Homo sapiens: one gene and its partner. The protein of the gene in region 1 interacts with the protein of each later gene in a pairwise test. Each region holds a gene or a part of one and is shown on either strand. Other genes may lie near its edges.

The links.
Region 2: the proteins of SRRM4 (region 1) and SRRM1 interact in binary tests that used the Homo sapiens proteins (3 or more experiments, as listed by UniProt).

What each region holds. Positions count from the first base shown.
Region 1 is NC_000012.12:118,986,882-118,992,348, forward strand, and holds part of SRRM4 (serine/arginine repetitive matrix protein 4), read left to right. Parts: intron 1-5,467. UniProt on the Homo sapiens protein: Splicing factor specifically required for neural cell differentiation.
Region 2 is NC_000001.11:24,653,298-24,657,862, forward strand, and holds part of SRRM1 (serine/arginine repetitive matrix protein 1), read left to right. Parts: intron 1-1,008; coding exon of another isoform or gene 1,009-1,046; intron 1,047-1,557; coding exon 1,558-1,832; intron 1,833-2,354; coding exon of another isoform or gene 2,355-2,366; exon of another isoform or gene 2,367-2,393; intron 2,394-4,565. UniProt on the Homo sapiens protein: Part of pre- and post-splicing multiprotein mRNP complexes. As a component of the minor spliceosome, involved in the splicing of U12-type introns in pre-mRNAs. Involved in numerous pre-mRNA processing events.

The DNA of each region.
Region 1 (5,467 bases):
CAGAAGAGCAATACATTAAAAAAAAAATCTGTTTTTTTTATTTTTTATTTTTCAGAGTGGCTGGATTTACCTTCCCGTGAAGTGGAAGAATTCACAGGGGCTTAGCAAAACTAGAGCTCTTTAATTGCTTGTTCCTAAGACTTTCGCTGAAGTGTGAGAGAATATTTCTGAGGTGGAGGAAGTAGAATGATGAAGAGTTTGAGCTCTGAAGTCAAATCTATCCAGGCTCAAATCTTTCTTTGCTACGTGCAAGCTGCAGGACCCGCTAGTCACTTCACCTCTTTGTGCCTCAGCCTCCCCATCTGTGAAATACTCCTCTGTTGGGGTTGTAGTGAGGAGTGAATGAGATAATTTATATAAAGAGCATGGCACTGTGCCTGGTACAAACCCAGATCTCCATAAAGCAGATGCTCTTGTGTACTATGCCAGGGGCTACCCAACGAGATGCAGAGAGGGGGGATGCTAAAGCCCCTTACTACCTGGGCTGCGCTTGTTCAGTAGTGATGCTTGGGTTCTGTGGACTGGACTCCTGAGCAGCTCCAATGCTCTGTATTCACTTTTAAATGTGGCTTTGGTGCTCCCTAAAGAGCCACTGGAGATTGGTAGAGCTGTTTGAAACATTTGATGGACCTCAGGGGCACACTAATCAAAGGAAGTGTTTTATTTTATTGGTTGCAAATGCTTACGGGCTATGAGACTTGGCAAGCAGCTTGACCTTCTCAATCTCAGTTTTCTCATCCATAAAATGGGGCTAATAATAGCAGCTCCCTCCAAGAGCTGCTGTGAGGACTGGATGAGCTAATTTATGGAAAGTGCTACTTGGCACCCAGTCAGAGCTCCATCAGTGTTGGCTCTTGCTATTAATAATAAATGATAGGTTTTTTCGTTACTATTTGCCAGGCCCATTGGGGAGAAAAAAGTTGAATGTCCTCTAGTGAGGGCCTCAGAGTTTAGTAGAAAAGGTAGACACAACATAAGTACATATTTCATAAGGGAGACAGTCTTTTTAATTTTTAAAATTTGTTTTCACATAATAACTGTACATATTTGGGGGATACATAGTGGTGTTGTGATACATATAATGTACAGTGATCAGATCAGTGTAATTAACATATCCATCATCTTAAACATTTATAATTTCTTTTATTAGAAACATTCAGTATTTTTCTTCTAGCTATTTGAAACTGTAAAACATATTATTGTCTTAAGCATGATAATGTAGGGAGAAATAGAGACAGAGGAATGTAAAAAAAAAACAGCGAAGGGAGAGACCCTTAATGAAGCATGGAGTCCCTTGCTTATAGTCACACAGTTATTTTTAGTTATCCGATCTGCAAAATGGGGATGATTCTTCTATTTCATCAACGTTATCTACAAATACAAGGAATGATCAGAGAAAATCAGACCTTTGCCCCCAGCAGGGTCTCAAATACCATTTCTTTTAATAGGAGAGAAAGCAGGCTAAACTCTCTGAGGGGAACATTAACTGTGGGGGAATAGTCAACGCTAGTGGAGGGGAGCCGTGGAAGGGAGCTGCTCATATAATATACATTTTCCAGCTCAAGGATGCAGTCTCTGGCGTGGGCTATTAGGCTTCTTGTCCTTCATGGACCAGCTCTAGCTAATAGGAAATCTAGTCTGCATTCCATGAACAACCACCAGTGATGGGGGGATTATAGCGAGCCTGCAAATGTGGAAGATAAAATTAATCACAGGGGAATTAATACACAAAGTGGAAGAAGCTGCACGTTGGCTAAAAAAAAATTAGGTTGTACTTTCATTCATTTATTCAGTCATTCAACATTTTTATTGAACCACTACTCAACGTAACAGTGAATGAACACAGGAACTCCCTGTTCCCGTGGAGGAGAAAGACAATAAATGAAGAACCAAATAAATAAATGAGAGCTGGTGGTAATGCATTCTGTAAAGAACAATAAAGCCAAGGAAAGGAATAGAGGGTGAGGGAATGAGCTGCTTTGTTGGACAGCATGATCCCTGAGTGAAGGGAGAGGTGAGCTGTGAGGATAAGTGAGAGAAAAGTGTTTGAGGCAGAGGGAACAGCAAGTGCAAAGGCCCTGAGGTAGAAGGATGCTTGGTGTATTTGAGAAATAGCAAGGAGGTCAGTGTGGCTAGAGCAGAGTGAGTGAATGGGAGAGTGACAGAAGATGATTCCCAGGATGCAGGCAGAAAACAGATCAAGTGGGGCCTTGTAAGCCAGTTCAGGAAATTCCTAGGTCCTGGGCTGGGGGCAGGAGGTGGTCCCAGGAGGGTTCTTGCCTTCTCAAGCAGAGTTCCAGATCTGATCTGCTTCTGTTTGACTCCTCTTTCCTGACTCTGATGCAGCCAGTGATGACTTTGAACAGCAATATCAGAAGATTGGCTGGGTCCCTCCATGTGTTATGGACAAGCATGAAATTTACAGTCCCTTTGATTGTGAACAATCACATCAGGAAACTTTAAAGATGCTGTTTAGACTTCCAAATAGCAGTGATAGATTTTGTTCCCACGGTGCAAGGGTTTGGTCTCTCATATTCATGCATGCAAACCTAGACTATCCCTTGCACCCAGTAGCCCCCTCCACTGCACACTCTTGAAGCTACAGTCTGCTCTTTCTGTCTCTCTCCCTCTGTGTATCTCTCCCGGCACCTGTCCCCCCACACCTTCCAGCCCCCCACTCCATTTGAAATTTTGCTGAGGGAGCTCCCATATGCTACAGCCTCTGTGCGGAGCTCTGTGAAATAGAACACTGAATTAAGATGTCATAGAGACAAAGCCAAACCAAATACAGGAACAATGCCGAACCCTAAAACAGTCATTAAGTAATTCATGTCTACGTGTGTCTGTTCAAAACAAATATTAAGATCCTCTGGACGCAAATCTTTCTCATCCGGAGAATCCTCTGGTTGCTGGATTCCCAAAGCTTAGATGCCGCTGTCGGACAGCTTTGCTGAGTACAAATACCAACAGATCACTGTTCTCTGGCTTCGTTAAAAGTTAAGCTTAGGCAACTGAGCAGGAATTTAGAAGACAGTTGCCACTTCTGCAGAAAGAGAGGTGCCATTTGGGCCTGAAGCGTGCATCTTCATGGTGTGTGTGCACGCTCACTTGTGGTGGGAATGTGTGTGCTAAGAGCCTTGTGTTACTATGTGCCTTGCCCTGTGCTGAACACATTTCATCTCTTATCCAGTTCTGTACTTATAATAATTCCAGAAGAGAGGTGTCTTCAAGACCCTATTTTACAGATGAGAAAACAGAGGCTCTGAGAATAGAAATGATCTGCTCACAGACACATGGCTGGTAAGAGTCAGAATTGGAATGAGAACCCAGAGCTCTTAACCAACATGTTTATAGGATAAGACACTTTGCAGAGGAGGAAAAAATGGTATCACAGAGGGGAGGTAAGCCCTGGGAATCCAGCAACCAGGGGAGTCTCTAGATGAGAAACCTTTGCGTCCGGAGGTTCTTACTATTTGTTTTGAACAGACACACGTAGATGTGAATTGCTTAATGACTGTTTCAGGGTTCGGCATTGTCCTATTTGGTTCGGCTTTGTCTCTATGTCATCTTAATTCAGTGTGCCCATGATCACACGGTGTGTAAGTGATGAAAGCAGGAGATGAATTCAGGTCTGTCTGATTGCTAGTATATTCTTCTCTCCTGGCTGGACTTCCTGTCATTCTGGTTTGGGTTTTAAGGTTGGGGGTGTTTTTGTTTTGTTTTGCTCATCTTGTTTTATGTTCAATCAGTTTAGTAACTGCCATTGTTATAATCCCATCTCATACCACTTGCAGCAATACTGCTTTCCTCTTTCCTTGCCCCTCTTATCCATTATCCACATAGACCCAGAAGAACCTCTTTGAAAAGCACATCAGACCATGTAAGCCCTCTCTCCCTCCATCTAAAGCCCTCTATCACTTTCTCTTGTTTGTGTTTTTTTGGTTTGTTTTTGTTTTGAGATGGAGTCTCGCTCTGTCACCCAGGCTGGAGTGCAGTGGTGCGAACTCAGCTCACTGCAACCTCTGCCTCCCAGGCTCAAGGAATTCTCCTGCCTAAGCCTCCCAAGTACCCACCCCGCACCCAGCTAATTTTTGTATTTTTTTAGTAGAGACAGGGTTTCACCATTTTGGCCAGGCTGGTCTTGAACTCCTGACCTCAGGTGATCCACCCTCCTCGGCCTTCCAAAGTACTGGGATTACAGGTGTGAGCCACCATGCCTGGACCCATGTTTTTTTAAGTATACAGAGCCAGCTCCCTGCCATGGCCTCTAGCCTCTTCATGGTCCACTTCCTGCCCACCTCCCTGAGACCATTTCTAAAACACCACCTCTCACTTCCTCTGTTTAGTTGCATCTTATTCCTTTTAGTTACTCACATTTTCCAGGCTCCTTCCTGCCATGGAGCCTTTGCACATGCTGCTAGGAAAGCTCTTCCTCTCCCCTGGTGCCTGATTTATACCTACTCCACTTTCCAGAGCTCAGAGGAAATGCTGTTTCCTCGGGGATCCTTCCAGAATGCTGCAGACTAAGTCATACCCCTCATTACAGACATTACTTTCTTATCACTGTTTTCAACACATTTGTAATTATATATGGATTTGGGCGATCATTGGCTAAAGCATACCTCTCCTAACGGTTGAGGCCTCATGAGGAGAGGGACTGTGACTATGAGCTCCTTGTTGAACGAATCTCTTCCCCCAGATACGCAGCAGGGACCAAACACATGTTGGTAGAATGCATGAACTGTAGCACTTTCCCCTCATCGAATCACTTTCACACCTAATAGTCTGAACCATATGGAATTGCCAATATTCAAAACCAGTAATGTTATTTCCTCTGATTCATAGGAGAATTGTTTGAACCACTGGGGATGGGGACTATGCCTGTCTCATTCTTTGCGGTATCCCAGCACCTAGTACAGTGGCTCAAGGTTGGTCATCTTTAAATATTTGTTGAATAAATTGTTAATGAGGACAATACAACCATAAGCACACTGTACAGATGAGAAAACTCAGAGATCTACAGAGGTGTAGTATTAGATAGAGCTAACAGGACCTTAGGGATCACCCGATCTCATTTTACACGTGGAGGGCTGAGGGATAGGTTTGATAACGTGCTTAACATATTGGAACCATAGTGCGCATGTGTAATTTGTAAATAAATACACATATATTGGGGTTTTGTTCTCAGCATTTCTCACTGAGAGAGATATGAGATAAAAGAAACTTTGGGGTCCATTGATCTAATTCAGCTCCTCTTTTAGCAGAAAGAGACACTGAAGCCTGCAAAAAGAGAGAGATTTGCCTAAGGTCTGTAGTCTGCAGGTGAGCTCTGGGTTCAGAGAAGTGATGTTTGCCCAACGTCAGGGCTCTTGTTTGAACTTCTCTGCTGCAACCAGGTGAGCAGACACCAGTTCTCTCTGGTGACCCCACCCACGCTGTGAGACATGACATCCCGCCCCCTCAGGGT
Region 2 (4,565 bases), on another chromosome or scaffold:
AATCATACTAAGTAAGAGAATTGGCCACCTTCTCTTTGGCTTTTAACTGGCTTCTGAAAAGTAGCTGATTATAGGGCCAGTAAGCTCCTTTTACCAGTATTAAAGTAATTCATTTGCTGTTATACTTTGAGAAAAGTATTTTTATGAATTTTTTATAAAATTCTCAGAAAATTCTCATTATAGAAGTAATGAAGCTTATAAGTAATTCAGACAGAAATAGCATAACTTGGAAGTTTTCCATAATCCGTGGGGGAATATATCTATATTCCATAGATATAATTGCTATTACTAGTTTAGTGTCTGGTTATTTTTCAAAACCCCAACTGTACCAGTGTTCTTTTTTTTACATCATTCTAAAATGAGCATAAGATAAAATATTTGAATCTTGGATATATCACTTTAAACAAAAATTAGTGGCTAAGTCTACCCAAAGTAGAGTCCTAGTGCACTGGTAGCAGTTTTTGTGCCTTCTTGCAATACGTTTCACCTGGCTTGGGAAGAAATGCCGATGATTAAGCTTCCAGTTATTTTGGACAGAATTTTTTGTTTGAGTCTTTTAAAGTTCTTTTCAGGGAACCAAATCAATTTGGAAATAAAGAGGGGAAAAATCAAGTAAGCTCTGTAAAGTTACTTTGTTTCTGCAGTCAGGTTTTTCAGAGTCCCATATTTTGAAAATTTTCTTTGGGGAGGGGTTGTTAAGATATATTGAACTATTACTACTGTTGCAAAGAATTGATGTGTTGTGCTCATAGAGGAAATTAGTGAGGTAAATGGTCAGTCAATTTTCAGGCATCACACTTTTCTAATTCCCTTTTAGGAGAAAAGTAATGCTGGTGCTTCCTAGTACAAGATTAGTGGAAACAGCTATTTCTTATACTGGAGTTTTGCAAACAGCATGTTTAAATTGTGCTTACTCAGCCATTTAGCAGTCAATATTTTACAGATTGTTTAAGATTCCCTTTCAGCCAGTTTTTATCTCACACTTAAGGTAGGGTTTCTTTTTTTCAGGTTCTCAGGAATTCTTCCGCCAAAGGTGAATTCTGCAGGTACACATAATTGCAACAGAACTTAACACAAATTTTGCCGCAGAATTCGAGAGGCCCCTGCTTCTAAGTTTATGTAGCTAAATGAATTCTTAGTTTTGCACATCTTTTTTAAAAATGCAACCTAAAGGTTTCTCAACATTGTGTTATTAAATGGAAAATACCTTGCCCCCAAATTTTATATGCAAACTCCAAAACACCAATACCATTCCTAAGGCAGAAGGACTAGTTAGTTATTTTATTATAGCATTCAACCTGACAAGTTTTATAACTGGAGAGAGAACACAGACAGAAGTATTTATCAGATTAAGTTGTTTATATTAATCTCAGAACTAGCTGTTTCCTGGCCTAGGTTATGGTTTTTTCCCCCATTCTTTTGGACTCATTTATGTGCTTAGCTACATAAACTCAAAAGTCGGATTAAAATAGCTGTATTTTTGTGTAAACTGTTCATACCTGTAAGGCCGTTCTTTATAAGTGTGCAATTAGTGAATATGAATACTTTATTCCACAGAAGAAGACGTTCGTCAGCATCCTTGTCTGGGAGTAGCTCATCATCCTCTTCATCTCGTTCACGGTCACCACCAAAGAAGCCTCCCAAGAGGACATCCAGCCCCCCTCGGAAAACTCGTAGGTTATCTCCTTCAGCAAGTCCTCCAAGGCGAAGGCACAGGCCATCACCTCCTGCAACTCCACCACCCAAAACTCGGCATTCCCCTACACCCCAGCAGTCAAACCGTACAAGAAAAAGTCGTGTTTCTGTGTCTCCAGGGAGAACTTCAGGTAAAGGTAAAAATCAAACACATATGAAACATGGTCTCTCTTTCTTTGGCTACAAAGCGTAGTCAGTTATTGCCCCCTGCTCACTCTCAAAGTATGAAATAGCTAGATAATATTTGTATCTAATACTCTCTGTAGGTTTACTTATAAGCCTACCTCTTTCCTGCTTTAAAATCTTGGGGCTTTTTTATGTGTAAAAGGGTTTTGTTTTTAGCAATGCCCTGTGGCATTGCGCAGGTGGAGAAATCTTTTACCAGCCGTGGGCTGTTTGAGTTGGGGTAACATATCAAAGTTTGCGTTGGCATGATAAGGGATCATTTTATTACTATGAGACCAGTTAACTTTTTTTTCTCCTGAAGATTTTTGGTTTGATATCTTAAATAAGAGGACTTCATATTCTCTTTTAGTTCTTTCTTGGTCGCATTGCGCTCCCAAGCAAAGGACATGGTGTCCTCTTAAAAGCTGATTTGTTTTTTTAATTTAGGTTCTAGGCAGGGTTCTTCTGAGTGTTGTCCTTGCTTTATTCTGCAGATTGATTTCTGAGGAATTTATGATCTGTGAACCTGCCAGGCAAGTAGAATGCTGTGTTAGTCTGAGTGAAGGTTGTGGTCTATTGGGGTTTGTTCTGTGAGCATTAAATACGCATGGAAAAAACTGTAGTGTCCATTTGAACCAGGCTCTCTGGAGCTTAGGGCTGGAATGATATACAGCCTAAAAGGTGAGTAGTAAGGGATGGGGAGGATCTTAAAAGCTGCTAAAGCAATTGAGTTTTAAGGAGCAATCTGTAGGTTAACACACGCTGGGGTTATTATGATCATATTGAAAATTTCAGGTTAGAGCCAGGTGTGGTGGCATGAGCCTGTGGTCCCAGCTACTCAGAAGGCTAAGGCAGGAAGATCACTTGATCCCAGAAGTTCAAGGCTGGCCTCAGCCCCATAGCGAGATCCTGACTCTTAAAAAAAGAGAGAGAAAAAATTTCAGGTTAGAAACAAAGAAATGGGGATGGGCAAAATTTTCATTATACATTTTAATGAGCTTGATGAGACCAGCATTGCTAATTATTCACCCTGTTGCCTTATCTCCCCACTCCCCAAGGCTGCAATGTGGTGATACCTAGAAAGGCAAATTTTGCTTTCCTTTTTTGTATCTGTGACAATGAGGCATAGATAAGCTGACAGAGTGAAAGGGTGACCAGCAGATTATGATAGTCTGTAAAAAGTAATGTTTTCTGAATTGTGACATTTTTATTGTAGTGATAGGTTCATTAAATAAGACATGGCCACTTTTGTTGGCCCCTTAGAGAAGCAGCTAGTGAAAGTAGAGAAGCCTGTAACTGTTCCAGGTTCAGTCCTCAGTTTGAGAGAGGGGCTTCGGGATCACTGTTTTCATAACCTCATGTACCATACTGCTTTTCAGCATTGGGAAAATTTCAGTCCATTTTCAGTTACCATGTCCAAATCTGATGCCCATGGCCCTGGCCTATTTTGTCTTTTCCTGTAAAGTTTGTACTTCTGAATATTTATTCTTTGTCTGGAGCCACAAAGCTCTCCAGGGAAAAAAACAAGTGTTTTTACCTGTTACTTTGCAAAAACACATCAAGTGATGATTTTTTTCTATTTATATCATATAGCCTAAGAGTTGCAAAAGTACCTGAACAGAGGGACCAATCCTTGTTAAAATAGGTTGATTGTTAAGAATTATTAGGTACTTTTAAAAAGCATCTGCACAGATGCTAATTTCTTGTGTTTTGGCATATACTTTTTGCAAACAAGACAAGAGTGGATATGTACATAGGAAAGAAGTAAGCCATGGTGAAAATAAGTATTTCTGTGGGTTTTGGGACAGGGCTTCCGTGTTCAAACAACCTACCCAAAGAGAGGCACTACAGGCAGTGTAGTCAGTCTCCCCTGTGACCACTGGAGCTGAATATTGGTTTGACCTACTTGGAAATAACCTCTCCCCACCACCCCGCTAAATAGAGCCAGCATCTCACTCTGTCACTCGGGCTGGAGTGCAGTGGCCCAGTCATAGCTCACTGCAGCCTCCAACCCCTGGGATTACAAGTGTGAGCCACCACACCCGGCCCAGACAACCTTTTATATTAAACTGATCCCAGCCCTCTGTGATGAAATTTCAGAGCTAGAAAAGACCTTAACAGTTGTCATCAAGAAACAGATTTTCAGGTTAGTTGACTTGGTCAAGGTCAACCAACTAGGAATAAAACTTGAGTTGTCATTCCCAGTTAAATAGTGAATACTTTTCACAACTTTCCTACCCCAGAACTCTTCTTTGATTGCTAAAGGTGAGAAATGGAGGGCAGGGTTGAAATTCTTTAGCTTCTCTATCTGGTAGTATGATTTCAGAAATTACTTTGCAGTTTCTGCTGCTTAGAACAGTAACATCATTGAAATGTAATAGATATTACAGTTAATATTTTCCCTAGTGGCCACTAATCAGGGCTTTAGGGCTCTGCTCTTGATAGTGGGCAAATGGAGTGGGAGGGAGGCAGGAAAAGTGTTTTGGGGAACTTACAGGTTAATTATTTGGAATACAGTATACAGTCATCTGAAGGGATCTTAGGGGAAACATTTGTAATTACTGACATTTCATAAATTGGCATTATCTTAGTACATAAAATAGTGCTTGAAATCAGTGGCACAGTCAGCGAAGTATGTTAACATGATCAATACTGGTGGTGACGGTGTGGTAATTTTGATTTATTTAGATTAGCTTGGCCACATA